2 separate regions of the Homo sapiens genome follow, and region 2 is linked to region 1. Evidence: fine-mapped expression QTL. A gene starts in region 1. The other region holds a variant in brackets. All regions are shown on one strand. Distances are from middle to middle.

Region 1 (16,187 bases):
ACCCTAAATCCTCTCTCTCAAGTTCAAAGTTCCACAAATCTCTAAGGCAGGGGCAAATGTTTTCAGTCTCTTTGCTAAAACACAAGAGTCACCTTTGCTGCAGTTTCCAATAAGTTCCTCATCTCCATCTGAGACCACCTCAGGCTGGACCTTATTGTTCATATCATTATCAACTTTTTTTTTTTTCTTTGAGATGGAGTCTCACTCTGTCACCCAGGCTGGAGTGCAGTGGCATGATCTTGGCTCACTGCAACCTCTGCCTCCTGGGTTCAAGCAATTCTCTGCCTCAGCCTCCCGAGTAGCTGGGATTACAGGCTACCGCCACCACGCCTGGCTAATTTGTTCGTATGTTTAGTAGAGACAGGGTTTCACCATCTTAGCCAGGCTGGTCTTTAACTCCTGACCTCGTGATCCACCTGCCTCAGACTCCCAAAGTGCTGGGATTACAGGCGTGAGCCACCATGTCCGGCCCATTATCAGCATTTTTGTCAAAGCCATTCAACAAGTCTCTAGGAGGTTCCAAACTTTCCCACATTTTCCTGTCTTCTTCCAAGCCCTCCAAACTGTTCCAACCTCTGCCTGTTACCCAGTGCCAAAGTCGCTTCCACATTTTCAGGTATCTTTTCAGCAAACCCCCACTCTACTGGTATGAATTTACTGGATTAGTTTATTTTCACGCTGCTGATAAAGACATACCTGAAATTGGGAACAAAAAGAGGTTTAATTGGACTTAACAGTTCCACATGGCTGGTGAGGCCTCAGGAACATGGCAGGAGGTGAAAGGCACTTTTTACATGGCGGCAGCAAAAGAAAAATGAGGAGGAAGCAAAAGCAGAAACCCCTGATGAGCGCATCAGATCTCATGAGGCTTATTCACTATAATAAGAACAGCATGGGAAAGACCGGCCCCCATGATTCAATTACCTCCTCGTAGGTCCCTCCCACAACACATGGCAATTCTGGGAGATACAATTCAAGTTGAGATTTGGGTGGGGACACGGCCAAACCATATGACCATCCCAGTAAATACAGATCTCAATCAAAATGGCTGCATGACAGTCTCCTATAGAGAGGAATTCCAGCTGGGTGCGGGGTGGCTCACACCTATAATCCCAATACCTTGGGAGGCCAAGGCAGGTAGATCACTTAAGCTCAGGAGTTTGAGACCAACCTGGGTAACGTGGCAAAACCTCATATCTACAAAAAATACAAAATTAGCTGGGCATGGTGGCGTGCAGCTGTGGTCCCAGCTACTTGGGAGACTGAGGTGGGAGGATCGCTTGAGCCCAGGAAATGCAGTCTGCAGTGAGCAGAAATCGTGCCACTGTACTCCGACGTGAGCGACACAGTGAGACCCTGTCTCAAAAAAAATTTTTTTTAAATAGCTAAGTCACAAATGAAGTTGACAGATTCAAGGACAGAGAAACAGACAAAAAGAAGAAAAGAACCTGACGACCACATGAGCTCTCAGGCCACAAAAGAGGTTCTGTGGGCACATGGTTCTGGTATTGTCTCAGCAGCACACCGAGGGATTCCTGAAGCTCCAGTGCCATGCTGCAGATGGACTACCTTCTTCTGACCATCAGGAAAACTGGAGACACATATCATACTGGAATACATTCTCTGGGTAGGTATAATCATGTCTAATACAGGCTTGTTGGTTTTGGAGATGCTGCAGCTAAACCAGATGTGGACACTCAGCTTTAGTGAAGAAACAGGAATCCCAGTCACCTGGTCAAGTGGAAGCCACCAAAAAGTTGTACCTGGTAGATGCGACCCCGAGCTGCTGCAAACACACAGCCAGGTGCTTGGCCATGAGATGTAATTTCTCAGCAGCATGGCAACCCTGACTGATCTCACCTGCTCGGTGTCAGATCGATTCCGCTTTCCTTCAGCTGGGGCTCCATCGCTTCGGATCACTTTGGGCTTCCGTTTTTTGCTCGATTCTGATGACATGGTTGTTCCTCCTGTTAAGAGGAGAAAGTTTTTGAGATTCTTCTGGAGTCATAACACTGAAGTCAAACTAGCAGTTCTGGCCACTTACAGACTTGGTAACTCAAGGAAAGTCATTTAACCCCTCAAAGCCTCAATTTAACCCTCTGTAATACAACAGGGAAGCATCTCTCAGCCTGTCCAAAACAAACTCCACCTTCTCTTTTAAAAAGGCATCACCACCCACTCCCACTGACCTCGGAATCATCTACTTCAACCTCTCCCTGCCCTGCCTCCACCCACATCCTGCTCCACACTCTCCATAGAGGAGACCTGCATTCAAGTGTTCACCCAGCTATCCAGGCACCATGTGTGTCTCCATCTCAACACCCTAGGCCAGGCCCTCCACATTCCTCTCCAGGACTACTCTAACAGTCTTGCCCAACAATACTGTCTAAATTCTCTTTCTTAAAAAAGACCGACCTAATTAATGCCTCTCCTGTTTCAAAACCTTTGCTGGCTCTTCATAATGCACTGAATATCCATATTCCCTGACTTGTCATAAAGACCCTTGATGGTTTGTCCCCAACCTACCTTCCCAACTTCATTTCTTGCATTCCTATTCCTACCGACCTTCCCACTGTCCCCAACCTCTGCTCCTAGCTGCAACTGCACCCTGCAATCCCAGTTCCCCAAACACTCCATGTCTTTTCCCCTGCTTGCAAAGATCTTCCTTTTCCTCCCTATATCCTTCAAGACTAAGCAATGCTCATCTGCTCTAGGAAGCCTGTCAGGTCTCCCCAAAGCCCTCTTTTGGCTACTTTGGGTACACTATTAGGGAATTTATCTCTATGAATCATTTACCTGTCTTCCCACCTAGATTGTGAGCTCTACCCTCTTCCCCCTGAGCCTGGCAGAGTGCTCCATAAATTAGTATCCAAACTCCTCGGTCTGGCATTTAAAGACACTCCCAATACTACTGTGATCACTGTGTGCTGGGCCTTGATCTAACTACTTTATGGGTATGTTCTCATTTGCTCCTTATAACAAACTTTTCAGCTAAGAACTACCACCATTTCACAGATGACAAAACTGAGGCTCGCAAGGGGAATTACTTGCAAGTAATTGCGAGTCACATGACTAGTAGGCCAAAATCCGGATCTATCCAATCAATGCCATACTGGTGCTCTTAACTACACTTTTATGCCTCCTAGTCCTGCCAGCCTCTCATCTAGTGATGCCATTGACTCCCAGGTTGATCCTAGAATTTAAAGTATAGAACCTACATTTCATGGGGCTCTACAGTCACAAAGCATCCTCCCTTGTTGCCTCACCACAGCCTCCTGAGGTGGGCAGCACTGTCCCCTTTACCCTAATCCCTCTTGCTCTGTCACCCAAGCTGGAGTGCAGTGGCACAATCATCACTCACTGAAGCTTCCACATCCCCGACTTGAGGGAGCCAATAGTTTGTCACGGTAAAAGTCAGAGAGCCCTGAACTGGAATCTCCATTCTACTCTTTCATGGCTATGAGTCCCCGGACGAGTCACTTCACTTTTCTCTGGGTCTGATTCCTCACAAATCAAATGAGAATAACAGTCCCTACCACAGGGGTTGTTGTGGGCTTTAACACAGGAGGCATTCCACTGGGGAAGGTGATGAAGATGACCTGGGACTGTGGCTTCAGATGATGCATAGGTGATCTTAAATAATGCTGAACACCTAAGGAGAAAGTTAATCCCTTTTCAATTCTTATTTTGAAACTTCTGATTGCTTCAAGGAGAACATCTCAGTTCCCTAGTTTGTCTTTAACATCTATGAATGCCAATGTTCCTTTGTAACAAAAGAACTCTATCCCACAGCCTTAAACAACAAAATCTAGCCAGAGTTTGTTAACAATGATCTAGTTGCATTATATTAACTATATTAATTTTTACCTTCTACATAAAACAAGTGAAAGCAGCTTTCCATTTCTGGTGGAGAGATTTCAAGTTTTCTCTCAAAGTAAATTTGAGTTTAAAAAGTGACTTGGCTGGGCGCAGTGGCTCAGGCCTGTAATCCCAGCACTTTGGGAGGCTGAGGCGGGTGGATCACCTGAGGTCAGGAGTTTGAGACCAGCCTGGCCAACATGGTGAAACCCCGTCAGTACCACAAATACAAAAATTAGCCGGGAGTGGAGGCGGGCGCCTGTAATCTCAGCTACTCAGGAGGCTGAGGTAGGAGAATCACTTGAACCCAGGGAGCAGAGGTTGCAATGAGCCGAGATCGCAGCCACTTCACTCCAGCCTGGGCAACAGAGCGAGATTCAGTCTCAACAACAACAAAAAAAGTGACTGGGCCCAACACCATGGCTCACACCTGTAATCCCAACACTTTGGGAAACCAAGGCAAGCAGAGGTGAGAGAATCGCTTGAGCCCAGGCGTTCAAGACCAGAGTGGGCAACAGAGCGAGACCCCATCTTTAGAAAACATTTTAAAATTAGCCTAGTATGGCGGTGCACACCTGTGGTCCCAAGCTACTCTGGAGGCTAGGGTGGGAGGATGGCTTGAGCCCAGAAGTTCCAGGCTGCAGTGAGCTATGATCGCGCCACTGCACTCAGTCTTGACAACAGAGATCCCGTTGCAAAAAAAAAATTTGGACTGGATTAAAAATTTTTAGTAAACCCCTCCCCCTCCCCCCTCCCCCTCTCTCCACGGTCTCCCTCTGATGCCGAGCCGAAGCTGGACTGTACTGCGGCCATCTCGGCTCACTGGAACCTCTCTGCCTGATTCTCCTGCCTCAGCCTGCCGAGTGCCTGCAATTGCAGGCGCGCGCCGCCACGCCTGACTGGTTTTCGTATTTTTTGGTGGAGACGGGGTTTCGCTGTGTTGGCCAGGCTGGTCTCCAGCTCCTGACCGCGAGTGATCGGCCAGCCTCGGCCTCCCGAGGTGCCAGGATTGCAGACGGAGTCTCGTTCACTCAGTGCTCAATGGTGCCCAGGCTGGAGTGCAGTGGCGTGATCTCGGCTCGCTACAACCTCCACCTCCCAGCCGCCTGCCTTGGCCTCCCAAAGTGCCAAGATTGCAGCCTCTGCCCGGCCGCCACCCCGTCTGGGAAGTGAGGAGCGTCTCTGCCCGGCTGCCCATCATCTGGGATGTGAGGAGCCCCTCTGCCCGGCTGCCCAGTCTGGGAAGTGAGGAGCACCTCTTCCCGGACCCCATCCCGTCTAGGAAGTGAGGAGTGTCTCTGCCCGGCCGCCCATCATCTCAGATGTGGGGAGCACCTCTGCCCCGCCGCCCCGTCTGGGATGTGAGGAGCACCTCTGCCCGGCTGCGACCCCGTCTGGGAGGTGAGGAGCGTCTCTGCCCGGCTGCCCCGTCTGAGAGGTGAGGAGCCCCTCCACCCAGCAGCCGCCCCGTCCGGGAGGTGGGGGGCAGCCCCCGCCCGGCCAGCCGCCCCGTCCGGGGGGGAGGTGGGGGCCAGCCCCAGCCCGGCCAGCCGCCCCGTCGGGTCGGGGGTAGGGGGGCGCCTCCGCCTGGCCGCCACCCCGTCCGGGAGGTGGGGGGCGCCTCTGCCCGGCCGCCCCTTCTGGGAGGTGAGGAGCCCCTCTGCCTGGCCGCCACCCCGTCTGGGAGGTGTACCCAACAGCTCATTGAGAACGGGCCATGATGACGATGGCGGTTTTGTCTAGTAGAGAGGGGGGAAATGTGGGGAAAAGATAGAGAAATCGGATTGTTGCTGTGTCTGTGTGGAGAGAGGTGGACAAGGGAGACTCCATTTTGTTCTGTACTGAGAGAAATTCTTCTGCCTTGGGATGCTGTTGGTCTATAGCCTTACCCCCAACCCCGTGCTCTCTGAAACATGTGCTGTGTCCACTCAGGGTTAAATGGATTAAGGGCGGGGCAAGATGTGCTTTGTTAAACAGAAGCTTGAAGGCAGCATGCTCCTTAAGAGTCATCACCACTCCCTAATCTCAAGTACCCAGGGACACAAACACTGCGGAAGGCTGCAGGGTCCTCTGCCTAGGAAAACCAGAGACCTTTGTTCACTTGTTTATCTGCTGACCTTCCCTCCACTATTGTCCTATGACCCTGCCAAATCCCCTCTGCGAGAAACACCCAAGAATTATCAATAAATACTAAAACAAACAAACAAACAAATTTTTAATAAACGGTAGTAGAGGTGGTAAGTTGATCTGGCAAAGCCTACAAAGACCGGACCTGAAAGGCTTAAGTGTGGGAAATCCTGACTTTGGCAACACAGTAGAGTGCCTGGCACACCGAAGAGCACGATATATGTGAGCTGTTACCATCACCACCACCCCCACCCCCATCAGGCTACATTACCACAATCAAGAGGCTCCAACGTGAAGCCTGAGGATGCTGCAGCGAACACTTTTCGGATGAGGTAACAGCGCAGCGCCGAGAGGCCGGGGACCGCGGGTAGTGAGGGAGGAGAAGCCGGGTCAGACCCCAGCCCAGGGGCGCCCTTTGGGCGATCAGCACCTCAGTCCCGGAGCGCCCAGCCCCGCCCCATCTCCCAGCCCCACTGCCCTTGTCCCCTCCTCACCTCACAGCTCCAAGAACCTGGCACCGGGAGTAAGCCACTGCCGGAGGCGGAGCAAAGCTTGCCCGCGCACCATAGAGAACCGGAAGTAAGGAAGGGGCGGCCGACCGGAAGCGAGGCGTAGAGGCCGGAAGCTCAGCGCGGAGGCCCCCGAGGGAGGTGGTGGCGTGGTGAGACTGTAAAAACAAAGACACATGCTTCTCGTTCACTGTGCCCAGGGCCTAAGAGAGTGTCCAGCAGCTAGTGGGCGCTCCACCGAGTAGTTGAATTAATGTTGTGTTATGTCCAAGATAACACGAAAGAACCTGGTAGCGCGGCGGGGAAGATTTCGGCGCTAGAGGATTTGCCTGCATAACCTTACTTCTTAATTATTATTTTTACCATAATATGCCACGCCAGTGAAGGCAACAAGTCAGGGAGGGCATTAACCTCATTTTACACTTGGCTTTTTGAGGAGTGCATCACCAGTTTCTCCATTTTAGGCCTGACTTGCCCAGGACAGAGTCACAACTCTAACGCAGTATTTGAAAGCTTCAGGTATTTCCTACCCCTGGCATGAACTGTACAAACAAGGCCCAGGATTTTTTCGTGTAAATCCTCATCTGGAGCTAGTAACACGTGTCCTGAATCCCTGGTTGTACGGGGCCAGTTCCTTCTCCTTCCCAGGAGCAAGGAGGAAAATACTGGCTCTTTTTTATTTTTATTTTTATTTGAGACAGAGTTTTGCTCTCTCACCCAGGCTGAAGTGCAGTGGCGCAATCCCCGCTCACTGCAAACTCCGACTCCAGGGTTTAAAGGATTCTCCTGCCTCAGCCTCCTAAGTAGCTGGGATTACAGGCATGCACCACCATGCCCAGCTAATTTTTGTATTTTTAGTAGAGACAGGGTTTCACCATGTTGCCCAGGCTGGTCTTGAACTCCTGACCTCACTCAAGTGATCTGCCCACCTCGGACTTCCAAAATGCTGGGATTACAGGCGTGAGCCACTGCACCCAACCAGTACTGACTGTTGAGAATAGCTCAAGAACACAGTACCCTCCAGGAGGGTAGATCTGCCATGTGGGACTAAGCCCACCAGCTCTACTGTGCCCTGCCTCAGGCACCTGCTAAAGTTCCTTGCAGATGAAGAAAAGACACTGATTTATAGTAAATATTTAATTGTTTCCATCAGCAATTCCAGCACAAGTTTTCCTGGATGGTAGGCAGAATCAAGCTACCCAAGGGTTCATGATGAGGTATGGGGGTCACTGAGGAGACCCCCAGAGTCACTGACCCCTCCCGCCACCTCCACACACCAGGTGGCCCTGCAGAATGAGGGTTGGGCTGATAGAATGTCAATTAGGGGAGACAGGATACAGGGTGAGGGAACAGGGTCTAGCTTGTATATTTGCCTGCAGGAAGGAGGGAGGGCAGGAGAGACTCTGCATAGAAGGACTGGAACTACACATTTAAGTTTTCAACCCCAATATGCAGGGGGAAACAGCCAAGCCACTCTCCATCTGTCTAGTATTAGGAACCTCTCTTCAAGTGGTCTTTTGTCATCTCTGTTCTTCTTCCCAATTCTGTATTCCAGATTCCAAATTCTACAATTGAAACCCAAGTTCTGAATTCTAAGTTCTACCTTCCGAGTTCCTGTTACGTGTCTGTCTCCTGCCCCTAAATCTTTCCTGGCTCCCATCCCTTTCCCCAGCCCCTCTGGGCAGAATGTCTGAACCTCCTCCTGACCGTGGTGACGAGGTTTGTTTGTATTTGTTTTTTTGTTTTGGCAGTTCCAGGCTTTTCTCCAGCAGGAGGGACTTGGCTCAGACTGTCCAGCAAGTGGGTGGCCCAGTGGAAACCAGGGAATTCCTGAGGGCCTGGCCTGGCCTCCTCTCTTCCCACCCCACCTCTAGCCACTGGACATACTACCTTTTGTGCAACTAAGCTAAACAGAGGATTTCCAAGGGTGATAACTGGGGACTGGTGGCCTTGAGATGAGGAATTTTAGAAGATAAATGAAGGCCTAAAAGATCACTATCTTTCATTCAGGGAAATCAGAAACTACTTCTAGCAGGGGGAGGGAGGCAGGCAGGGAAAGTAGAAAGGGCCTGGGCAGAGCTGTAATCCTCAGAACTTGTCAGCCTTCAGTTCCCCCTTGTCTGAACTGAGCACTGCCCCTCAGAGTCCTCCCAGAGCCAAGACAAAACCAAGACAGCAGGACCAGGAGTGCCACTGTCTGTCGGGGTTGCCTGAGGGAGAAGGGGAAGGAGGTGGAGGTGTAGGCAGCATCACTGCAGAGGCGAGATCTTCAAGGGGATCATGATCCTAGACTCCATGTGTCGCACCAGGGGGACTGCGGAGAGAGAAGGCAGAGGTCACACAGGGGGCTCAAGCAAGCCAACAACCTCCCCTGGCCCCACCCACACATGCTGGCCTTTGAGTGGGCAGGAGGAGGCCCCAGATGCTGCGACAGGAATGTCCCATTGCCCTCGTGGAAGGGCCCATGAAGAGCACCAGATCCCTCAAATTATGGGATAAGACAGGACTTTGGTGGTGATGAGAATAACATTTTCTTAAATTTTAATAGTTATCTGTTGGCCAGGCATGGTGGCTTGTGCCTATAATCCCAGCACTTAGAGAGGCCAAGACAGGCGGATCACCTGAGGTCAGGAGTTCGAGACTAGCCTGACCAACATGGAGAAACCCTCTCTCTACTAAAAATACAAAATTAGCCGGGCGTAGTGGCACATGCTTGTAATCCTAGCTACTCGGGAGGCTGAGGCAGGAGAATCGCTTGAACCCGGGAGTCAGAGGTTGCTGTGAGCCGAGATCAGGCCATTGCACTCCAGCCTGGGCAACAAGAGCAAAACTCCGTCTCAAAAAAAAAGAAAAGAAAAACACTGATTTAGACCAACTGCCTCGTTTTACAGATAGAGAGGGTGCAGCCTAGAGAAGGTCAGCTCCAGGTCATCCAGGAGGTTAGACTCTTTCCTCCAGCTCAGAGCTTTTCAAACTTTAATGTGCATACAAATCACTTGGCAGTTCTTGTTAATGTGCAGATTCTGATTTGGTAGGTTGCAGGAAGCCTGCGATTTGTTATTCTTGTTTGTTTCTTTGTTTGAGATGGAATTTCACTCTTGTTGCCCAGGCTGGAGTGCAATGGCACTATCTCGGCTCACTGCAACCTCTGCCTTCCGGTTTCAAGCGATTCTCCTGCCTCAGCCTCCCGAGTAGCTGGGATTACAGGCATGTGCCACTATGCCTGGCTAATTTTGTATTTTTAGTAGAGACAGGGTTTCTCCATGTTGGTCAGGCTGGTCTTGAACTCCTGACCTCAGGTGATCTGCCCACCTCAGCCTCCCAAAGTGCTGGGATGACAGGCGTGAGCCACTGCGCCCAGCCGAGATTTGTCATTCTTAACAAGCTCCCAGGGGATGCCAATACTGTCAGTTGGGACCACACTTGATTTTTTTTGTTTTTTGTTTTTTTTGAGACAGGGTCTCACTCTGTCTTCCAGGCTGGAGTGCAGTGGCAGGTTCTCGGCTCAATGCAACCTCCGCCTCCTGGGTTCAAGTGATTCTTGTGCCTCAGCCTCCCGAGTAGCTGGGATTACAGGCTTGAGTTACCATGCCTGGCTAATTTTTTTTATTTTTAGTAGAGACGAGGTTTCACCATGTTGCCGAGACTGGTCTCCAACTCCTGGCCTCAATTGATCCACATACCTCAACTTCATAGTGCTGGGATTACAGGTGTAAGCCACTGTGCTTGTCTTGTTTTTTATTATTTTTATTTTTTATTTTTGAGATAGGGTCTCACTGTTGCCCAGGCTGGAGTGCAATGGCACAATCATGGCTCCCTGCAGCCTCAAACTCCTGGGATCAAGTGATCCTCCCACCTCAGCCTTCCAAGTAGCTGGGACTACAGATGGGAAACACCACGTCCTGCTAATTTTTAAAAAATGTTTTGTAGAGATGGGGTCTCCCTATGTTGCCCAGGCTGGTCTTAAACTACTGACCTCAAGTGATCCTCTTGCCTTGGCCTCCCAAAGTACTAGGATTTCAGTTGTGAGCCACCATACCCAGCTGGGACCACACTGAATAGCAAGGCTCCTGCTAACTCCTTCAGCAGACACATTCTCCCTCATACCACCTGGTAAGTGATCACTGTAAACTTCTCAATGGCAAGGACAGGCTCTTGTTCATTTATGTGCCCCTCAACCACCTACCTACCACAGTTCCCGGCACACAGTGAGGGCTTAATTAACACCCACTGACTCTAGGTGGTTTCAGGTTCCTAGCAAAGTGGCAAACACCTTGAGCAAAAAACTTGTTCAAGGCTGGGCACAGTAGCTCATGCCTATGATCCCAGCACTTTGGAAGGCTGAGGTGGGAGGACTGCTTGAGCCCAGGAGTTTGAGACCTGCCTGGGTGACATAGTAAGACTGCATCTCTACAAAAACAAAAACCTTATTCAAAAACATTTCCTGCATGCTTCCTTTGTGACAGACACTGGAGAAAGCACTTTTCATAAATGAGTTTGTGGGCCAGATGTGGTGGCTCATGCCTGTAATCACAGCACTTTGGGAGGCCGAGGCAGGCGGATCACCTGAGGTCAGGAGTTCGAGACCAGCTTGGCCAACATGATAAAACCCCGTCTCTACTAAAAATACAAAATTAGCTGGACATGGTGACACACGCCTGTAATCCCAGCTACTCGGGAGGCTGAGGCAGGAGAATGGCTTGAACCTGGGAGGCGGAGGCTACAGTGAGCCAAGATCATGCCACTGCACTCCACCCTGGGTGACAGAGTGAGACTGTGTCTCAAAAATAAATAAAATAAAATAAAATATAAAATAATAAAATAGTTTGTAGAATCTTCCGTTATAGCCCTCTGACAGAAGCACTATCACCATCACTATCTTACAGACGAGGGAACAGCCTCAGCGAGGTAAAGAACCGTGCCCAAGGTCACAATGGGCGTTTGCTAATCCACATCTCCTAGGCAGAGGCGTGGCCCTGGCTATGTTATCATCCCCTAGAGTACTCACCTAGGCCTGCTGGTATCCTATGGAGTGTGCCACTTGGATAGAAACCCATTAACTCATTGTCTTAAAAGTGAGTTCCCCATCACTGGAGGTAATCAAGAAAGACTAGATCTCCTTGCAGAGAGGATTCCATCCTCAGACAGGGTTCTCAGCAGAAGACCTCCAAAGGCTTCACTCACCTGTATAGTAGACATTTTCATCCCAGCCTCTCTTCCTCCAGGCAGCGTTTCGAGTCTCCTCCCGAGACTGCAGGTCTTTATAGGCTGTGAGAAAGGCACAGGCTCATTCCTCAGGCACAGAGGACTGGATCCCTTACCCAGCACAGGGCCCTCTTCCCACTGTCCCCTAAACCCTGCACTGCTGTCTCCTCCTCCCTAGATGCCTCCCTCAGACTATTAGCAAACACTGTCTGCTTTAATCATCCATCCAATCAGTACATATGTTAATATTGCCTACATTTATATTTCTAGTCGCAAACACTCCCAAGGGCTCCAGACTCCTATATCCATCTACTGCCTACTTGACATCTCTACTTTGGTGTGTCAGCATTTTTAGTGTTAACACTTCCGGCTAGGTGCGGTGGCTCATGCCTATAATCCCAGCACTTTGGGAGGCCGAGGCTGGTGGACTGCTTGAGGCCAGGAGTTCGAGGCCAGTCTGGCCAACATAGCGAAACTCTGTACTAAAAATAGAAAAATTAGTTGGGCATGGTACTGCATGCCTGTAATCCCAGCTACTCAGGAGCGTGAGGCACGAGAATCACTTGAACTTGGGAAGCGGAGGTTGCAGTGAGCTGAGATCACACTACTGCACTCCAGCCTAGGTGACAGAGCAAGACTGTGTCTCAAAGAAAAAAAAAAAAAGTAACAATTCCAAGGGCCAAAATTACGCTCCTGACCCCACTGACTTGCTCCTTCCCTAGACCTCCCAGACTCAGGAGATGACACACAGCAGCTCAAGCACGAGCCTGGGAGCTCTTCTGGAATGCCCTTCTCCTTCTCTTGCCCCACACAGACAATTCATCCACAAGTCCTGTTGGTTCCACCTCTAGACTAACAAATCTTCTGTGGACTTCTCAGCATCCCACTGCCCCATCCCCTCCTGCCTGAACTAGAGTAATGGCTTCCTGAAGCCCTGCTTTCTCTCTTGCTCGCCTACCAAGCACTCTTAACAAAGCAGACAGCAGCCAGAGAAATCATACTAGAACAAAAATCAGGTCGTGTCACTGCTATTTGAAACAAATAGTCTCTCATTGCATTTACAATAAATCCCAACTCATTCCCCCTCTCCTGTTCCATCTCCCCACATTCTTCCCTACTCACTCCACACTGGCCTCCTTGCCACACCTCAAAACCCCGAAGGCCTTTCCCCACCACAGGGCCTTTGCATGTGCTGCTCTGTCTACTTGGAATGCTTTTGCCTAGCAATTCACAGCTGGCTCCTTCTCATCCTTTAGCTCTCAGCTTACATTTTACTTCCTCAGAGAGGCATTATTTGTCTACCTAGACCAATGTAGATCCCCTATGTTTTTCACCATCATCTCTCCCTGCCTTTTTTTTTTTTCTTCTTTTTTTTTGAGACGGAGTCTCGCTCTGTTGCCAGGCTGGAGTGCAATGGCGTGATCTCAGCTCACTGCAACCTCCACCTCCCGGGTTCAACTGATTCTCCTGCCTCATCCTCCCGAGTATCTGGGACTACAGGCATGCGCCACCACGCCCAGCTAATTTTTGTATTTTTAGTAGAGATGGGGTTTCACCATATTGGCCAGGATGGTCTCGATCTCTTGACCTTGTGATTTGCCCACCTCGGCCTCCCAAAGTGTCGTGATTATACACTTGAGCCACCGCTCCCAGACTCCTTGCCTATTTTCTATAAATATTATTTGTAATCTGAAATTGATCTTTTTGTGACTTTACATCTAAGATAGTGTCTCCTGCTAGAACATTAAGTTCTATGAGGACACTAATACAACCCCATTGGCTACAGAGAGTGATGACAGAGAAAGAGAACTAACAAAAGGCTCCTGGAAGGTCCTCAACCTACCCCAGAGATGGTGCACCACGTAGAGCTCTCCTATCTGTGAGAAGAAGCCGCCCACTGCCTCCTGGTTCTCCTGCCGGTACTTGATGGCCCGAGCCCTGGAGAAGGCACAATAATATGGGGCAGAAGCCAGGGCTGGTGCAGAGGGTACTGAGGCTGATTCCTTGGCCACACTTCACAGGAGGGGCCTAGGTGGAACCCACGGTCCTCCGGGATGCTGAGAGAAAGGACTGATGGCGGGGTGTTCTACCAACGGAGGGGTCACAACCTTCTAGGAGATCCTCACCTCCTGGCTGGATCCTTCTCCCAGATCCATGAGGGGCAGAAGGTAAAGAGTTCCCTGTGATATGGCCCTGGAAAAGGTGGCCCACCAGGGGCCTTGGTGGGGCAGGTGAGCAGGGTACGCCTCCCCCAACCCCAGTCTTGGTGCTGCCACTTACCAGTTGTTCCCCCACTCGATCATGGTTCCTGGCTGAAAGAGAACCAAAGGGATGATGGGAATGAGCCCCCACCTCAGATTCATAGCATCACAGCTTGGCAAGGAAGGGAAACTGCCCTGTCTCCCCACCTCCCAAGCTGCAGCGGCCATTTGGCCTCATTCGCAGGCCCTGACACACACCTGGTGTGCATGTTTGCACACATGTGTATACAACTCTGCTCTGAGCCCATAGGGAGGGAGAAGCCAGAAGCCCCAGTCTAGGTGTTGGGGCAGCTGCAAAGCAGCATTGCAGCAGGGAAATTGGGGGGCAGGAGGGGGTCTGTCGGAGGGAGGCACCTTGAGCTTGTATGTCCTCAGCTCATAGATGTTGGGACCCATTCTGGGCTGTGGCTCATTCCAGAAGCTGAACTCGAGGAGCAGCTGGTTTCTCCTGGACAGCAGCATCTGGCTCCGCTCCCTTCGGAACTCCAGGTACTCCTGTGGGCATGGTGGTAAAGGCATGGCTACCAGGAAGTGCGCTCCATCCTGACAGTGTGCCTCATGGGGTAGCAGAGTAGTCCCCAGAACAGGGCTGGGCTGCATCCCACATCCAGAGAGGTGTGCTGAGTGGACACTAACATACCTTATTGTTTTTGAGCTTGTTCATGCAGTCCATGAGGGCTGGGTAGCCACCTGAGAATCGCCACAGGTGCACTGTTGGGGGTGAGAGGTATAGGTCAGTGAGCTGCTGGGACCCCCAGCAGATGACCTCCTCAAGGTTGGCTAAGTGGTGGGGACGGGGGAGGCGGGGTGGCCTGGTTCCCTGTAGCAGCAAGACTCCCTGAGTTCCCTCTGCCTTGGTGGAAGACCATGCTGGGGAGGGGATGACCCTAGACACAAGTCTAGGAGACCTGGATTTGAGCTCCAGCTCTGCCCAGCAGCCTTGGACTGCTCTAGGCCTCAATGTTCTCATCTTGAAAATGGGAATAATGTTCCCACCCCACCTTCCTTAAATAGCAACAAGAAGATCAGATGTGTCCTGTACCCTGGAAGCAGTGGCATGCATAAGGAAGACCACCAGGCCTTAGAGGGGCAGCTGAACAAAAGAACAGGGGAGAACTGATGGGCTGATATGGAACATTCCAAGACAGTGAATTGAAAAAAGGAACCAAGGAACAGAAGAGGATGTGTGGTATGCTACCTCATGTGTTGAGGTGGCAAGGACATCCAGAGATGCTAATTTATGCATCACCTCTTAATGGCGACTTAAGAGATTGACAGTAGACCAGGCGCAGTGGCTCACACCTGTAATCCCAGCATTTTGCGGGGCTGAGGTGGGTGGAGACCAGCCTGACCAACATGGAAAAACCCCATCTCTACTAAAAATACAAAATTAGCCAGGTGTGGTGGCGCATGCCTGTAATCCCAGCTACTTGGGAGGCTGAGGCAGGAGAATCACTTGAACCTGGGAGGCAGAGGTGGCGGTGAGCCAAGATTGTGCCATCGCACTCCAACCTGGGCAACAAGAGCGAAACTCCGTCTCAAAAAAAAAGAGATTGACAGTAGATGCCCCTGGGACACAGAATGGAGGCCTGTGGGGCCTCGGGCAGGAGGGAAGCTTACTTTGCATGGAAAACTCTTTGTACTGTTAGAATTTATAAAAATCCTGGGCCGGGCACGGTGGCTCACGCCTGTAATCCCAGCACTTTGGGAGGCTGAGGAAGGTGGATCACGAGGTCAGGAGATCGAGACCATCCTGGCTAACACAGTGAAACCCCGTCTCTACTAAAAATACAAAAAATTAGCCAGGCGTGGTGGCGGGCACCTATAGTCCCAGCTACTCGGGAGGCTGAAGCAGGAGAATGGCATGAACCCAGGAGGCAGAGCTTGCAGTGAGCCGAGATCATGCCACTGCACTCCAGCCTGGACAACAGAGCGAGACTCCATCTTAAAAAAAAAAAAAAAAAATTAGTTGGGTGTGGTGGCACATGCCTATAATCCCAGTTACTCGGGAGGCTGAGGCAGGAGAATCGCTTGAACCCAGGAGGTAGAGGTTGCAGTGAGTCAAGATTGTGCCAGTGTACTCCAGCCTGGGTGGCAGGGTGAGACTCCGTCTCAAGTAAATAAATAATCAACTTTGGGAGGCTGAGGCAGGTGGATCATCTGAAGTCGGAAATTTGAGACCAGCCTCACCAACTTGGCGAAACCCCATCTCTACTAAAACAAAAAT
Region 2 (16,187 bases), 50 kb before region 1:
TGGCCAGCACAGTGAAACCCCGTCTCTACTTAAAATACAAAAATTAGCTGAGTGTGATGGTGCATGACTGTAATCCCAGTTACTTAGGAGGCTGAGGCAGGAGAATCACTTGAACCTGGGAGGTGGAGGTTGCAGCAAGCTGAGATTGTGCCACTGCACTCCAGCCTGGGGGACAGAGTGAGACACTGTCTCAAAAAAAAAAAAAAAAAAAAAAAAAAAAAAAGAGAAGCTTGAATTGCTTCAGGAATGGCTGGATCCAGGGGAACTCTCAAATGATGTTCCCCAGGAAGCTGTCACTCATTTCTCCATCTCTCAGCTGCTTCCTTTTGTGTCAGCTTTAACGTCAGGCAGAACATCTCCATGTGGTCTCCAGAAGCTTTGGGCTTATATCCTACCAGGTTAGCAAACTCAGGGGAGAAAAAAGAACTCTTGTTCAATATTCCAGTAAAAGTCCAGGGTTTGGTTCTCACTGGGCTGGTAGGGCCATATGATCCTCCTTGAGCCAATGCATGAGACACTGATGAGCTAGACAGAGTTCACCTGCTCATCCCTGGAGCTAGGGAATATGTCAGACCCCTCAGTCTGAAATTGAGAGTTTGAGAGGGGAGTTTCCCAAAGGAAAATAGAAGTACTCTTAGCAGGAGAAAAAGGAGTGAATGTTGGACATTGGTAATGATAAATGTCCACAGTGGATGGAGTGCAGGTAGCAGAAGATCCAAAAGAATGATAATACCCAGTGTTAGCAGCTATGTAGAGAAACCTGAATTTTCTGGAGCTAATGCTTGGAATGAAAATCTTCCAGGAAGACAATCTAACGAAATATATCAAAAGCCTTAAAACCTTAGTCTTTTTTTTTTTTTTTTGAGATAGAATCTCACTCTATTGCCCAGCCTGGAGCACAGTAGTGTGATCTTGGCTCACTGCAACCTCCACCGCCTGGGTTCAGGCAATTCTCCTGCCTCAGCCTCCCAAGTAGCTGGGATTACAGGCACCTGCCACTGTGCCCAGCTAATTTTTGTATTTTTAGTAGAGATGGGGTTTCACCATCTTGGCCAGGCTGGTCTTGAACTCCTGACCTCGTGATCCACCCACCTCAGCCTCCCAAAGTGCTAGGATTACAGGCTTGAGCCACTGTGCCTGGCCTCAAGCTTAGATAGTCTTTAACCAAGGTATGCCACTTTGAAGAATGTATCCTAAATAAATACTTAGGTATATACAGAAATATTCAAATATGAAATCTATGTACCTCAGTTTTGGTTATAATTTGGAACAACAGAAAATATACTGATTATACACTAATAGGAGACTGGCTAAATAAATTACATCTATATTAGTAAACATGTTAAAGCAAAAAATAAAACTAGTTTGTTTTTAATTTTTATTACTTTATTTTTCCATAAGTTATTGGGGAACAGGTGGTGTTTGGTTACATGAGTACATTTTTTAGTGGTGATTTGGGAGACTTTGGTGCACCCATCACCCAAGCAGTGTACATTGCACCATATTTGGAGTCTTTTATCCCTCACCCCCCTCCCACTCTTCCTTCCAAGTCCCCAAAGTCCATTGTATCATTCTTACGCCTTTGCGTCCTCATAGCTTAGCTCCCACATATCAGTGAGAACATACAATGTTTAGTTTTCCATTCCTGAGTTACTTCCCTTAGAATAATAGTCTCCAGTTTCATCCAGGTCACTGCAAATGCTGTTAATACATTCCTTTTTATGGTTGAGTAGTATACCATCATATATACATATATATATTCACACCTGTAATCCCAGCACTTTGGGAGGCTGAGGCAGGTGGATCACCTGAGGTCAGGAGTTCAAGACCAGCCTGGCAAACATGGAGAAACCCTGTCTCTACCAAAAATACAAAATTTAGCCAGGCATGGTGGCACACACCTGTAATCCCAGTTACCTGGGAGGCTGAGGCAGGAGAATCACTTGAACCTGGGAGGCAGAAGTTGCAATGAGTGGAGATCACGCCACTGCACTCCAGCCTCGGCAACAGAGTGAGACTCCATCTCAAAAAGTAATAATAATAAATGAATTAAAAATAAATAAAAATAAAAAAGCCTTAATTAGGGCTGGGCACAGTGGTTCATGCCTATAATCCTAGCACTTGGGAGGCTGAGGCAGGTGGATCACTTGAGGTCAGGAGTTCAAGACCAGCCTCACAAACATGGTGAAACCCTGTCTCTACCAAAAAATTTATAAATTAGCCAGATGTGGTAATGCACACCGGTACCAGGTCCCAGCTACTCAGGAGGTTGAGGCAGGAGAATCACTTGAAGTCGGGCGGCGGAGGTTGCAGTGAGCCGAGATGGTGCCACTGCACTCCAGCCTGAGCAACAGAGCAAGACTCCATCTTTAAAAAAAAAAGCCTCAATTAAAAAAAAATAGCTTCCATAAATTTAAAAGAATTGAAATCGTACAAAGTACGTTCTCTGATCACACTAGAGTAAAAGTTAATAACTAATCTGGGAAAGTCACAAATATGTGAAAAACAAACACTCCTAAATAACCAATGGGTCAAAGATGAAATCAGAGGGGAAATCAGAATATTTTTAGATGAACGAAAATGAAGATATAACATATGAAAACTTACGGTATGCAAGTAAAACAATGCTTAGAGGGAAATTTAAAGTTGTAAATGTCTACATTTAAAAAGAAGAATGAGGCCAGGCACAGTGGCTGACGCCTGTAATCCCAGCACTTTGGGAGGCCAAGGCTGGAGGATCACTTGAGCCCAGGAGTTCCTGACCAGCTTGGGGAACATAGTGAGATCCCGTCACTACAAAATAAAAATTAAAAAATTAACCAGGCACAGTGGCGTGTACCTGTAGTCCCAGCTACTTGGGAGGCCAAGGCAGGAGGGTTGCCAGAGCCCAGGAGTTCAAGACTGCAGTGAGCTACAATCACACCACTGCACTCCAGCCTGGGTGACAGAGCAAGACCCTGTCTCTAAATAAATAAATAAAGGAAAAGAAGAATGATCTCAAATCAATAACCTAAATTTCTACCTTAAGACATTGAAAAAAGAAGAGCAAAGTAAACCCAAAGAAGGATTAGAGTGGAAATTAATGAAATAGAGAATATAAAAATGACACAGAAAATCAATGAAATTAAAAGTTAGGTCTTGGCCGGACGCAGTGGCTCACACCTATAATCCCAGCACTTTGGGAGGCTGAGGAGGGCGGATCACCTGAGGTCAGGAGTTCGAGACCAGCCTGGCCAACATGGTGAAACTCCATCTCTACTAAAAATACAAAAATTAGCCAGGCATGGTGGCGAGCGCCTGTAATCCCAGCTACTTGGGAGGCTGAGGCAGGAGAATTGTTTGAACCCGGGAGGCGGAGGTTGCAGTGAGCCAAGATTGCACTCCAGCCTGGATGACAAGAGTGAAACTCTGTCTCAAAAAAAAAAAAAAAAAAAGGTCCTAAAAAGACCAACAAAATTCACAAACCTTTAGCTAGACTGACTAAGATAAAAGAAGAAAAGACTCAAATTACTAAAATCAAGAATAAAAGAGAAGGCATTAATGCCAACCTTACAGAAATAAAAGGAATTATAAGGCAATACTGTGAACAACCGTATGTCCACTAATTCAATAATTTAGATTAAATGCATAAATTCCTAGAAATATAAAAACTACTGAAACTGACTCAAGAAAAATGAGAAAATCTGGCCAAGTGGGGTGGCTCACACTTGTAATCCCAGAACTTCGGGAGGCCAAGGCAGGTGGATCACAAGGTCAGGAGATCAAGACCAGCCTGGCCAACACGGTGAAACCCCGTCTCTACTAAAAATACAAAAATTAGCCAGGCATGGTGGCACGTGCCTGTAATCCCAACTACTTGGGAGGCTGAGGCAGAAGAATCGCTTGAACCTAGGAGGCGGAGGTTGCAGTGAGCCAAGGTCACTCCATTACACTCTAGCCTGGACAACAAGAGTGAAACTGTCTCAAAAAAAAAAAAAAAAAATTCAGTCTGGGCGCAGTGGCTCATGCCTGTAATCCCAGCACTTTGGGAGGCCAAGGTGGGCGGATCACAAGGTCAAGACCATCCTGGCCAACATGGGGAAACCCCATCTCTACTAAAAATACAAAAATTAGCTGGGTGTGGTGGCACGCGCCTGTAATCCCAGCTACTCGGGGGGCTGAGGCAGGAGAATCGCTTGAACCCGGGAGACGGAGGTTGCAGTGAGCTGAGTTTGTGCCACTGCACAATCCAGCCTGGCGACAGTGGGAGACTTCATCTCAAAAAAAATAAATAAATAAAATAAATAAATAAATAGCAAGCAAAAATTAGCCAGGCATGGTGGGGCGAGTACTTCTAGTCCCAGTTACTCGGGAGGCTGAAGCAGGAGAATCGCTTGAACCTGGGAGGCAGAGGTTGCAGTGAGCCAAGACTGCACCACTGCACTCCAGCTTGGGCGACAGAGTGAGACTCTGTCTCAAAAAAAAAAAAAGAAAAGAAAAGAAAAGAAAATCGGCTGGGCGCAGTGGCTCACGCCTGTAATCCCAGCACTTTGGGAGGCTGAGGCAGGTGGATCATGAGGTCAGGAGATCGAGACCATCCTGGCTAACACGGTGAAACTGTCTCTATTGAAAATACAAAAAATTAGCCGGGCATGGTAGCGGGCGTCTGTAGTCCCAGCTACTCGGGAGGCTGAGGCAGGAGAATGGAGTGAACCCGGGAGGCGGAGCGTGCAGTGAGCCGAGATAGCGCCACTGAGTCCAGCCTGGGTGAAAGAGCGAGAATCCGTCTCAAAAAAAAAAAAAGGAAAGAAAATCAATTAATGTAGTACACTACCTTGCCTTAAAGAATGAAGGGGAGCTGGGCACGATGGCTCACACCTGTATTTCCAGGTACATGGGAGGCTGAGGTGGGAGAATTGCTTGAGCCCTGGAGTTGAAGGCTGCAGTGAGCTTTGATTGCACCACTGCACTCCAGCCTGGGTGACAGAGCAAAACCCTGTATCTAAAACAAAAAACACAAAACCAATGGTGAAAAGCTGAAAGCTTTTCCCCTAAGATCAGGAACAAGACAGAGATGCCCACTTTCACAGTTGTATTCAACACAGTACTGGCAGTCCTAGCCAGAGAAATTAGGCAAGAAAAAGAAAAGGCATCCAAATTGGAAAGGAAGAAATAGAACGATCTCTATTTGCAGATGACATTATCACATATATAGAAAATCCCAAATAATCCACAGTAAACCCTTTTATTTATTTATTTATTTAGAGACCAAGGTCTCACTTTGTCCCCAAGACTGGAGTGCACCTGTGTGATCATAGCTCACTGTAGCTTCCAACTTCTGGGCTCATGTGATCCTCCTGCCTTTGCCTTCTGAGTAGCTGGGACTACAATTATGCGCCACCATGCCTGGCTAATTTTTAAATCTTATTTTTGTATAGACAGGGCTTCACTATATTGCCCAGACTGGCAGAAAAGTTTTTTTTAATTACTAGAGTTAATAAATGAATTCAGTAAAGCAGCAGGGGACAAAGTCAACACACAAAGAACAATTGTATGTCTACTCACCAACAATGAACAATCAGAAAAAGAAATTAAGAAAATAATTCTATTTATAATAGTATCAAAAATAATAAAATACCTAGGGATAAATTTAACCAAGGAGGCAAAAGACTTATACACTAAGTTTCATTTAAATAGGACAGTGAATGTAAAAGTGTGATTAGCACAGGGCCTGACCCAAAATAGATGCTTAATGCCTATTCTCATCAGAGACACTGCTGAACGCCATAGAAAGGACAGAGTCGGCTACACCGACAGGGACAAAGTTCCTTTGGAAGTCTGGCAGCCCTGCTCCTTCCTAGGGATAGAGTTTTGCTTAGCTTTGCGGAGTGATCAGCAAGAACACCCTTAAGTTTATGAAAAGAGTCTGTGGAGTTATTTGCAGAGAAAATAGTAAGGGATAAGCTAGGAAGAAAATAAGGGAGAAACTAGAAGATACCAATAAATCAGGAATGTGGACGGCAGCTTTAAAAAGGCAAGGAACAGGCCTGACATGGTGGGTTCACGCCTGTAATCCTAGCACTTTGGGAGGCCGAGGTGGGAAGATTGCTTGAGGCCAGGAGTTCAAGACTAGCCTGGGCAACATAGCAAGACCTTGTCTCTACAAAAGAAAAAAAAATGTTTTAAAAAAATTGTAAAGGGGAAAAAAAAAAAAGCAAGGAACACAGGCTGAGTCCCAGGTACAAGAGAGCGACAGATGGGCTGCGGTCTGCGATATGCCCCAGAGTATAATCTGCCAAAAGTCCGTGGACAATTCCAGCTGAGGAGGAAGCTTCTAGGTCCTCCCAAGCCAGTCCCTTTCCCCCTAATCTGCCCACCCTTGGCATGAATGGCTAAGTAGCTCACAGGGGAGGGATTGACCTGGGCTTCTCGCTTGTTTTAAAATCCTCCTTAAAGCCAAGGGATTCTTTTGTTCAGTCTGCTTCTCTGGAAAGGGAAAATCTCTTCTGGAGGGTGACAGGCTCTGATATCCCCTGTCTAAGAAGCAAAGCCTCTTCCCAGCCCTCACAAGCCCTCTTTGAAATCTTGTCCCGGCTTCTGGAGATGAGCTTTTGTGCTGAGTCAGTTTGGCTGCCTTCCAGCCAAGAACAGAGAAGTGCAGGCTGCAATGCAGGGGCCATTAAACTATTTTTAGGCTCTATTTCAATCTTATTCAGCACAGGCGGTGAGACACAAGGCCTGAAGGTGGACAGACCAGGGGGATGCCGCCTGGGACAAAGTCCCAGGCAAGTAGGTCAGGGAAAAGACAAGGAGATCTCGCTATGTGGAGAGAAATACTTAGCCAGGCGCGGTGGCTCACGCCTGTAATCCTAGCACTTTGGGAGGCCGAAGCGGGCAGATCACGAGGTCAGGAGATCGAGACCATCCTGGTTAACATGGTGAAACCCCATCTCTACTAAAAATATAAAAAATTAGCATGGTGGTGGGCGCCTGTAATCCCAGCTACTCAGAAGGCTGAGGCAGGAGAATTGCGTGAACCCGGGAGGCTGAGGTTGCAGTGAGCCGAGATCATGCCACTGCACTCCAGCCTGGGCAACAGAGCGAGACTCCGTCTCAAAAAAAAAAAAAAAAAAAAAAAAAAAGCACCCAGATGCTCATGCTGCTACCCAAGTGCAGAAGACAGAAGAAAGACAGCTGCCCAGAGAATTTGGCCCTGTAGAGTCATCAAGAAAAATGAAGAAAGGGAAGGGAAGGGAAGAAAGTACAGTGCCTTCCATAAAGAGACCAGGGCAGCCTATACCCAGGGATCCTTGTTAAAAATACACTTCCTGGCTGGGCGTGGTGGCACGCACCTGTAATCCCAGCACTTTGGGAGGCCAAGGTGGGTGGATCACCCGAGGTCAGGAGTTTGAGACCAGCCTGGCCAACATGGTGAAACCCTGTCTCTACTAAAAATACAAAATTAGCCGCACACTTATAATCCCAGCTCTTGGGAGGCTAAGGCAGGAGAATCACTTAAACCGATGAGGTAGAGGTTGCAGTGAGCTGAGATTGCGCCCTTGCACTCTAGCCTGGGCGACAGAGCAAGGCTCAAAAAATAAAAATAAAAAAATACACTTCCTTGGTGCATCTCAGGTCAATTGAGTCAGAATATTTGGAATGGGACTTGGGTGTCTGTGTTTCTAATCAGGTGCCAGGATGGGTGACTCCCACACAGGCTGAAGTTCGAGGACCTCTGAGCTAGAGAGTACCTGCCTTTGGAATTCAAAGGACTGATGTGGACTGAGGGTAGCGGTGGTGATTTAACAGCCACCAAAGGTACCATTCTCTTCTCCTTGCTAGGCTCAGGTTTCTTTTCTTTTTCTGAATGGGGACTCACTATATTACACAGGCTGGTCTTGAACTCCTGGGCTCAAGCAATCCTCCTGCCTCAGCCTTCTGAATGGCTTGGATTATAGGCATGAGCCACCACGCCCAGCAAGGATCAGGTTTTCATCCGTAAAATGAACGGCCCTGCTAGGGGCAGGAATTTATTACTTAGCTCTTACTCTTAAAATCCTTATCCCTGGGATACTCAGTGGTCGGCAGAGAGACCTGGAGGAATAGCTTTTATACTGGAGGTCTGCATTATCCATGGAAAATCAGTAAAAGTCCACTTAGGGGGAATATGCTTATGATGGGAACCAAGCTTAACAGCATGTTGTGGGGGGATAAAGTTTCATCAGGACAATCACAAAAAATAAAATGTGTTTCCTCTTGGAGTTAGCAAACTATATCTGCAACTATGTAATAATTCTCAAATATTTTTACATTTCTACATCTTTTTTTTTTTTTCCAAGACGGAGTCTTGCTCTGTTGTCCAGATGGTGCAGTGGCACCATCTCGGCTCAGTGCAACCTCCGCCTCGGGGATTCAAGCAATTCTCCTGCCTCAGCCTCCCGAGTGGCTGGGATTACAGGCGCGCACCACCATGCCCAGCTAATTTTTGTATTTTTAGTAGAGACGGGGTTTCACCATGTTGGCCAGGCTGGTCTTGAACTCCTGATCTCAGGTGATCCGCCCACCAGCCTCCCAAAGTACTGATATTAAAGGCGTAAGCCACTGTGCCCAGCCCATCTTATTTTTTAAAATGAAGAATGGAGTACTGATGGTGGGGTCAAGATACACTTTTTGACAAAACTGTCCAAGAATAGTCTATGCCATCCTTTACTTTGACTTGCAGGAGTATTACAAAGGATGTAATTTTATGAACATTTTAAAGGTTGTTACCTATCTTCCCAAGACTTCTCTTAATCAAATAATTATATTTTGAGGCACTTTTGTCATTACCTTAAAGACTCTACTCAGGCCGGGTGTGGTGGCTCATGCCTATAATCCTAGCACTTTGGGAGGCCGAGGTGGGAGGATCATTTGAGCCCAGGAGTTTGAGACCAGCCTGGGAAAAATAGTGGGATCCCGCCTCTACAAAAAATTTAAAAATTAGCCAGAAATGGTGGCACACACCTGTGGTCCCAGCTACTTGGGAGGCTGAGGCAGGAGGATCACTTGAACCCAGGAGAGGTTGAGGCGGCAGTGAGCTGTGTTCGTGCCACTGCACTCCAGCCTGGACAACAGAGCAAGACCCTGTCTCAATAAAAAAAAAATATTCTCCTCAAATGTTACCTGGTCTCACTGTCCTGTATCTCTGTATGTGATTGATTCTCCAACACCACTCTCGCCATCTCCATGAAATCCTGTAAGACTTAGAATTACTCTCTGTGAAGTACAGTTGATCTCTGAACAATAGTTTGGACTCTGTGGGTCTATTATATGCAGATTTCTTTTTTTAAAATTTTTTAGAGATAGGGACTCGCATTGTTTCCCAGGCTGGAGTACAGTACAGGCACGATGAATAGCTCACTGCTACCTTGAACTCCTGGACTCCAGTCATCCGCCCACCTCAGCCTTCTGAGTAACTGGGACTATTGGTGCATACCACCACACCTGGCTGATTTTTAAATTTTTTGTAGATACAGGGTCTCTCACTACGTTGCCCAGGCTGGACCTGAACTCCTGGCCTCAAGGGATCCTCCCGCCTTAGCTTTCCAAAGTACTAGGATTACAGTCATGAGTCCCTGCACAGATTTTGTTCAATAAAAATAACAGTGGTGCCTGCCTCCCCCTCCACCTCCCCCACTTTTTCTGCCTCTGCCATCCCTGAGACACCAAGACCAACCCCTCCTCTTCCTTAGACTATTCAACCCTGAGACAGTATGTGAAGACCTTTATGGTGATCCACTTCTACTTAATAGTAGATATATATTTTCTTCCTTATGGCTTTCTTATTTATTTATTTTTGAGACGGAGTCTCACTCTCGCCCAAGCCGGAGCGCAGGAGCGTGATCTTGGCTTACTGCAACCTCTGCCTCATGGGTTCAAGTAATTCTGCCTCAGCCTCCTGAGTAACTGGGACTACAGGCATGCGCCACCACGCTTGGCTAATTTCCATGTTTTTAGTAGAGACAGGGTTTCACCATGTCGGCCAGGCTGGTCTCAAACTCCTGACCTCAAGTGATCCACCCGCCTTGGCCTCCCAAAGTGCTGGGATTACAGACGTGAGCCACTGCACTCAGGCCCCCTTGTGACTTTCCTTATAACATTTTCTTTTCTCTAGTTTACTGTATTGTAAGAATACAGTGTATAAGATACAAAATATATACTGAAAATATGTACTGACTATGTTAGCAGTAAGTAACTACTAATAGCATACTACTGGTCAACAGCAGGCTATTAGTTAAGTTTTTAGGGAGTCAAAAGTTATACACGGATTTTTCAACTGTGCAGGGCAGGGGGTGTTGGTGCCCCTAACCCCTGAGTTGTTCAAGGATCAACTGAGTTTGTCTTCTGTTTGCACTGCACTGTCAGACATTTATAACATCCAACGATCAGAGACAATTTGTCCATCGGCAACCCTGACAGGACTAATGGGAAGAGCGGGTGGGGAGGGAAGAGTTTTGCTTTTTGTGCTCTGCTGCCTTTGGCTTCTCCTACCACCTCTTAACAGCAGGAACTTGGGATAATAAATACAAGATCATGAGGACCTCACCCCGCAAAGCACAAATAGGGTGTGCGTAGACAAGAGGTGAGCATCTCTCTGCAGAATTGGAATCTTTTTCCACTCTGCTTTTATTGGCTGCTGAGAAAAAGTCTCTCTACAAATGCTTTTTCACACTGTGTCACAGCTCCCACCTGCCCTTCCAGACTGCAAAGCCACCTTGCCAGGAACCACAGACAAAGGCCACTGGTCAGGTGACGCTTTTTAATTGGCTGGTGTCTTTGGA[G/A]AATATCAAGAGTCACATGTGGGCCAGAGCAGAAAGCAGAAGCCCAGTGCTCAGGGTGAGGCCTTGGGGGAAACAACGGTCTGCGCGGGAGATCAGCGATGGCTGAAGAATCCCTGAGGATGGTTGTATTTAAATGGCTTCATCCTGCTAGGACCCCTAGAGAAATAGGAGAACGGAGTTGTTAATAACACACCTTCTAGGCTGATAAAATAAATTATGGTTCATTCACACAAGGGAAAAAGAAGAGGCAGAGTTACATGACACAGAATGTTGTTGAGAAAAGCATACGGCAGAACAACATATAAGGTGCGATACTATTTTTGTAAAAATGTCTTTTTGTGCTTGCAAATGAGTGAACACAAACTTGGAAAGGCCCTCACTGACAGTGGCACTTCGGGGACATAGCTTTAGGCACCCTCACTTTTTAGGATTGTTCCTTTTTTTATTTTTTGAGACGGAGTCTCTGTGTCGCCCAGGCTGGAGTGCAGTGGCGTGATCTCGGCTCACTGCAACCCCTGCTTCCCGGGTTCAAAGGATTTTTGTACCTCAGCCTCCCAAGTAGCTGGGATTACAGGCATGCACCACCACGCCCGGGTTTAGGTTGAGGTTTAGTTTAGGTTTTGCCATGTTGGCCAGGCTGGTGGAACTCCTGGCCTCAGGTCTCTTGCTGCCCATGCCAGCACTCTGCATCCTGGCCGGAGAGCCTTGCCTCTCACATCTACCGGCCATAGAGTTAACTGGATCTGAGTCACTGAAGGAGCACCTTCCCAGAATGCTGACAGAGGAGCTCAGCCTGGAGACACAACAAAGCCCTTCAAGAATGGGGTCCTTTGGCCGGGAGGTGGAGGTTGCAGTGAGCCGAGATCATGCTACTACACTCCAGCCTGGGCGACAGAGTGAGACTCTGTCTCAAAAAAAAAAAAAAAAAGAAAAAAGAAAAAGAAATGGGTCCTTTGGGAACCACTGGAGAAGAGGAAATCAATGCTGGCCATGTGAGAATTCCCACCCTGGCAATGTGCTAGAATGGGCTGGGCAGGTGAGAAGAGCAGAGGTCTCACACAAGCCCTCTAGGGAGAGAGCAAGTCCTAGAAGGTGCCAGCATCTGGCCACCAGCTCCACCTCCCAGCAGCCACTCAGAGCTGGAACTGGTTATTATGAGATAACATAATGAACCAGGCCAGTGGAGGTGTCAGATGAGGTGAAAGGATGCTGGGACTGCTTCTAGGGGCTAGAACTGGCTGTCTGAGAACAAGGTGAGGGAGAGGTAAGGCACTGTTTAGACTGACAGGGAACAGAGAACAAGGTGAGGGAGAGGTAAGGCACTGCTTAGACTGACAGGGAACAGAGAACAAGGTAAGGGAGAGGTAAGGCACTGCTTAGACTGACAGGGAACAGAGAACAAGGTGAGGGAGAGGTAAGGCACTGCTTAGACTGACAGGGAACAGAGAACAAGGTGAGGGAGAGGTAAGGCACTGCTTAGACTGACAGGGAACAGAGAACAAGGTGAGGGAGAGGTAAGGCACTGCTTAGACTGACAGGGAACAGAGAACAAGGTGAGGGAGAGATAAGGCACTGTGTAGACTGACAGGGAACAAGGGGGGATGTTCTGATTAGAAACAGATTATCACTCTTCTTCCTTCCCAAACACTGCTCCCCGCCAACCTCATGCAGAAGGGAAGGGATGCCTGAGCAGTGAAATCTGCAGTTTTGAAACTGACTCTTAAAAGAACATGAGTTAGAGGCTGAAAGGGAAATAAAGGACCCAAAATGAAAGAGAAAGGAAAAGTAGCTGGAAGTGCCATGAGCCCAGACACTCTTGAGTACCAAGCTGTCAGGAACTGCTGGCATTTTCCGAGTCCCAGTCCTGTGCCAGGACTTTATATGAATTACTTCTGCTTCATCATGAGCTAGAAGGTATTACTTTCACCATTTCTGTCTTTAGAAAATAGGGGTCAGGCACAATGGCTCATGCCTGTAATCCCAGCACTTTGGGAGGCTGAGACAAGCTGATCACTTGAGCCTAGGAGTTTGAGACCAGCCTGGCTAATATGGTGAAACCCCATCTCTACAAAAAAATTTAAAAATTAGTTGCGTGTGGCGGTGCATGTCTGTGGTCCCAGCTACTAGGGAGGCTGAGGCGGAAGGATCGTTTGAGCTCCAGAGGTCAAGACTGCAAGGCTACAGTGGGCTATGATCATGCTGCTGCACTCCAGTCTGGGCAAGAGAGTAAGACCGTGTCTCAAAGAAAAGGAAACAAACAAACAAAAAGCTGGAGGAGGGCTCAGAGCTAAGCAGAACTGACTCTTCTAAGGTCAGCAGCAAAACAGAGATCTGCACTCCTATCTGTTTTACTTTGAAGCTGGTTCCTTCTGTGCCACCTGACTGCCTAAGCTGTGATTCTCACTGACAGGACAGTACCCTAGAAAGACCACAGCAGACTCCCTGGGGACAGGCGAGGATGCACACAGTTTAAAAAGCTTATTTGGACACTAAAAAGCAAACAAACTCTATTGTTTTCCACAGAAAGTATAGAAAATAAAGTTCAGCCAAATCCTCTTGGCTCAGACCTGGCACTAACACCTTCAGGAGGTGTTAGTGAAAAACAGGTGGACCAGAGTGATAGGCATCGGCTGCAGGGGAAGTTTCAGGAAGGAAGAAGCAAGCTCTCCCCAGAAAATCTGGCTCTGATCTCTGTCCCACATCACCATGAGAAGTCACCAGAGCCCCAACCCTCTCCTCACCTGAAGAGCCGCAGACACATCTTCTCCTGGGGAAATTCCTTGGGCCCCTCCACACTGTCGTCATGGCTCTCGGTCTCCAGGTAAACATCCAGCAGCACACACAGCCGCTGCAGCTGGTTGGTCAACAGCTGGTGGCTGGGCCAAGGGCCACACAGCTCCTTGTAGCACACATTGACTTCGCCCTCCATGGCCTGTGTGATAGGAAAGCCAGCATCTCAGCACTACCTTCCTGCATGTGGGGGACCACACTGGCCAGGCTTCCGTCCCTGGATGGGCCCGAGCGCTGATGCCTCTGCAGGGGCTGGGCCAGGGGCTAGGCCATCAGATCAAGCTAGACTGGCTTGTCCTCAGGCCCCCTCATCAAGACAATGAGGTCTTCCTGATTCTGACCCATAGCTTTCCCTGCCTCATATGCCCACAGCCAGGAAAACAGAGGTGTGCAGGGAAGCAGTCTCAAAATAAGACCTAAGTCAGAAGATGTTGGTTAAAAACGTGTTCCATGGCATGTTTGACTTAGTAGCAGCAATGCTGATTAACAACTGCAATGCTGATTAACAGCTGCAATGCTGATTAACAACTGCAGTGATGTCATTCCTCATGTCATTCCAGTGCTTCTATAATGCTTCAGAGCTTATTCACATTTTTTATAGGAGCCCAAGCCAATAACCTTTCAAGGTAGGTATTTCTCCTTACTCTCTAAGTGGGGAAACCTGTGGACCCCAAGGTAGGCAAGTAGGTCTGGGCTCTTTCCTCTAGTACACCACACAAGCTCCAGCAAATTCTGCAAATCCTGGCACAACCTTCTGTTTTGGGAATTAAGGCAGTGCCCAAGTCCTCAGCTGCAGTGGGTTCTGCCACGGCCACCTCCCCCGGGAGCTCTGCCTGCTCCTCCTGTCATCCCCAGCTGGGTCTTACCCGAATGTTGTCATCGTTGCTGTTGGTTTTCTCCCCTTTCCAGTTCAAACAGAGCTGGAAAACAGGTGGGATGGAGGAGTAGCCAGGGTTCAACACCACAGCGGCCTGCAGTTTGGCTGGGAAGAGAGGAGAGAGGGGAAATGCGCAGTTCTAAGACTCAGCTTGCCAGCCATGGCAGCCTCCCCACTGCACCCCTGAGGCTAGCTCAGATGTCTCCTATTAATCTGAATGCTGCAGAGTATATTCTGGTACCAACTGTTCCAGAATGTCCTAAGTGGAATTGCCAGCTTGCAGAATGTGAGGTCCTATAATTGGTCTCTCCAAGGACTTTGACATATTTACTGTGCCACAAAGCTGCGGACTCCCCAGAGTCTGGTCCACCTTGGCTCTCTCCATGAGTTCTATTTGCTACTTTGATAGAAGTGTAATTGTCATTTCTTTATTTGCCAGCAAGCTAAGGTTTTCTCCATGTGAAAGCTTACTAATTTTTCAACAATACTGTGTATCAACTATCACATCAAATATATTTTCTCTATTTTCTTCATTTGATTTTTACATACTTTGTTACATAAAATTCTGTATACTAGCCAACATGTAGAGAGTCCTTACTGTATCCCAGGCACTGTGCTAAACCCTCTAGACACATTTTATTTCATCCTAACAATAATTCTATGAGTTAGGTACTATTATCCTCATCCTCATTTTACACATAAAGAAACAGGCTCTGACAGAAACTTCCCTACCATCAAATAGTTGGAAGGTAGCAGTGCTGAGTTTAACCAGAACTGGCTGATATCAAAGCTGTGTTCATAATCATTAAACAAAATATTTGTGTTTTTGAACATACTCATTTATTCTCTGGTGAAAGCCTTTGCCTTTTTCAACAGGAAGACATTTATCTTCTCAAGTGGGATAGGTATGCCATTCCTTTTTAGTTATTTTTAGGGGGGAGACTTTCACTCTCTGACCACTAGTTATTCAAATAACAGAGGAGAGGAGAGGTTAACACAATTCTTCCCTAACAGTCAGAACATTAATTAAAAAGTTGTGGCTGGCGCGGTGGCTCACGCCTGTAATCCCAGCACTTTGGGAGGCCGAGGTGGGCGGATCACGAGATCAGGAGATCGAGACCATCCTGGCTAACATGGTGAAACCCCGTCTCTACTAAAAATACAAAAAATTAGCTGGGCGTGGTGGTGGGCGACTGTAGTCCCAGCTACCAGCTACTCAGGAGGTTGAGGCAGGAGAATCGCTTGAATCCAGGAGGTGGAGCTTGCAGTGAGCAGAGATCGTGCCACTGCACTCCAGCCTGGGTGACAGAGCAAGACTCCGTCTCAAAAAAAAAAAAAAAAAGTTGCTTTACCTCCCCCTGTCCCCAAAAAAGAGTGTTCTGGACTGGGCATGGGGGGTCACGCCTATAATCCCAGCACTTTGGGAGGCAGAAGTGGGTGGATCACTTGAGGTCAGGACCAGCCCAGCCAACATAGTGAAATCTCATCTCTAGTAAAAATACAAAAATTAGCCAGGCCTAGTGGGACATGCTTGTAATCCCAGCTGCTTAGGAGGCCAAGACGGGAGGGTCACTTGAACCTGGTAAGGTGGAGGTTGCAGTGAGCTGAGATCATGCCACTGTACTCCAGCCTACGCAACAAAGCAAGACTCCGTCTCAAAATAAATAAATAAAAAGTGCTTTCTGGCCAGGCGTCGTGGCTCACGCCTGTAATCCCAGCAC

Alleles and levels. Positions count from the first base shown, and alleles are read on the strand shown. Sizes are in standard deviations (SD) of each study's normalised expression.
With allele G in place of A in region 2, the expression in monocytes of the gene that starts at base 6,566 in region 1 is higher (moderate effect, 0.43 SD a copy in Fairfax 2014).

Evidence for each region.
Region 2: its variant is fine-mapped to the expression of THOC5 in monocytes (Fairfax 2014, PIP 0.95). The same link has a PIP of 0.9 or more in B cells, NK cells, monocytes after LPS and monocytes after interferon gamma.

The regions. Positions count from the first base shown.
Region 1 is chr22:29,547,192-29,563,378 of GRCh38, forward strand. THOC5 (THO complex subunit 5) reads right to left here and starts at 6,566. Exons shown (of 20, transcript NM_003678.5): 1 at 6,480-6,566; 2 at 1,861-1,967. The coding sequence starts at 1,956. NIPSNAP1 (nipsnap homolog 1) reads right to left here. Exons shown (of 10, transcript NM_003634.4): 5 at 14,601-14,671; 6 at 14,315-14,455; 7 at 13,980-14,011; 8 at 13,543-13,637; 9 at 11,679-11,762; 10 at 7,617-8,808. The coding sequence ends at 8,744. RefSeq lists enhancers at 4,689-5,388, 6,786-7,483, 6,867-6,936 and a silencer at 6,277-6,466.
Region 2 is chr22:29,497,566-29,513,752 of GRCh38, forward strand. THOC5 (THO complex subunit 5) reads right to left here. Exons shown (of 20, transcript NM_003678.5): 18 at 14,456-14,571; 19 at 13,541-13,731; 20 at 8,314-10,955. The coding sequence ends at 10,892. Among named protein-coding and RNA genes, the nearest start is that of NEFH, 25 kb to the left of the region's middle. The variant G/A (reference allele first, on the strand shown) is at 10,800.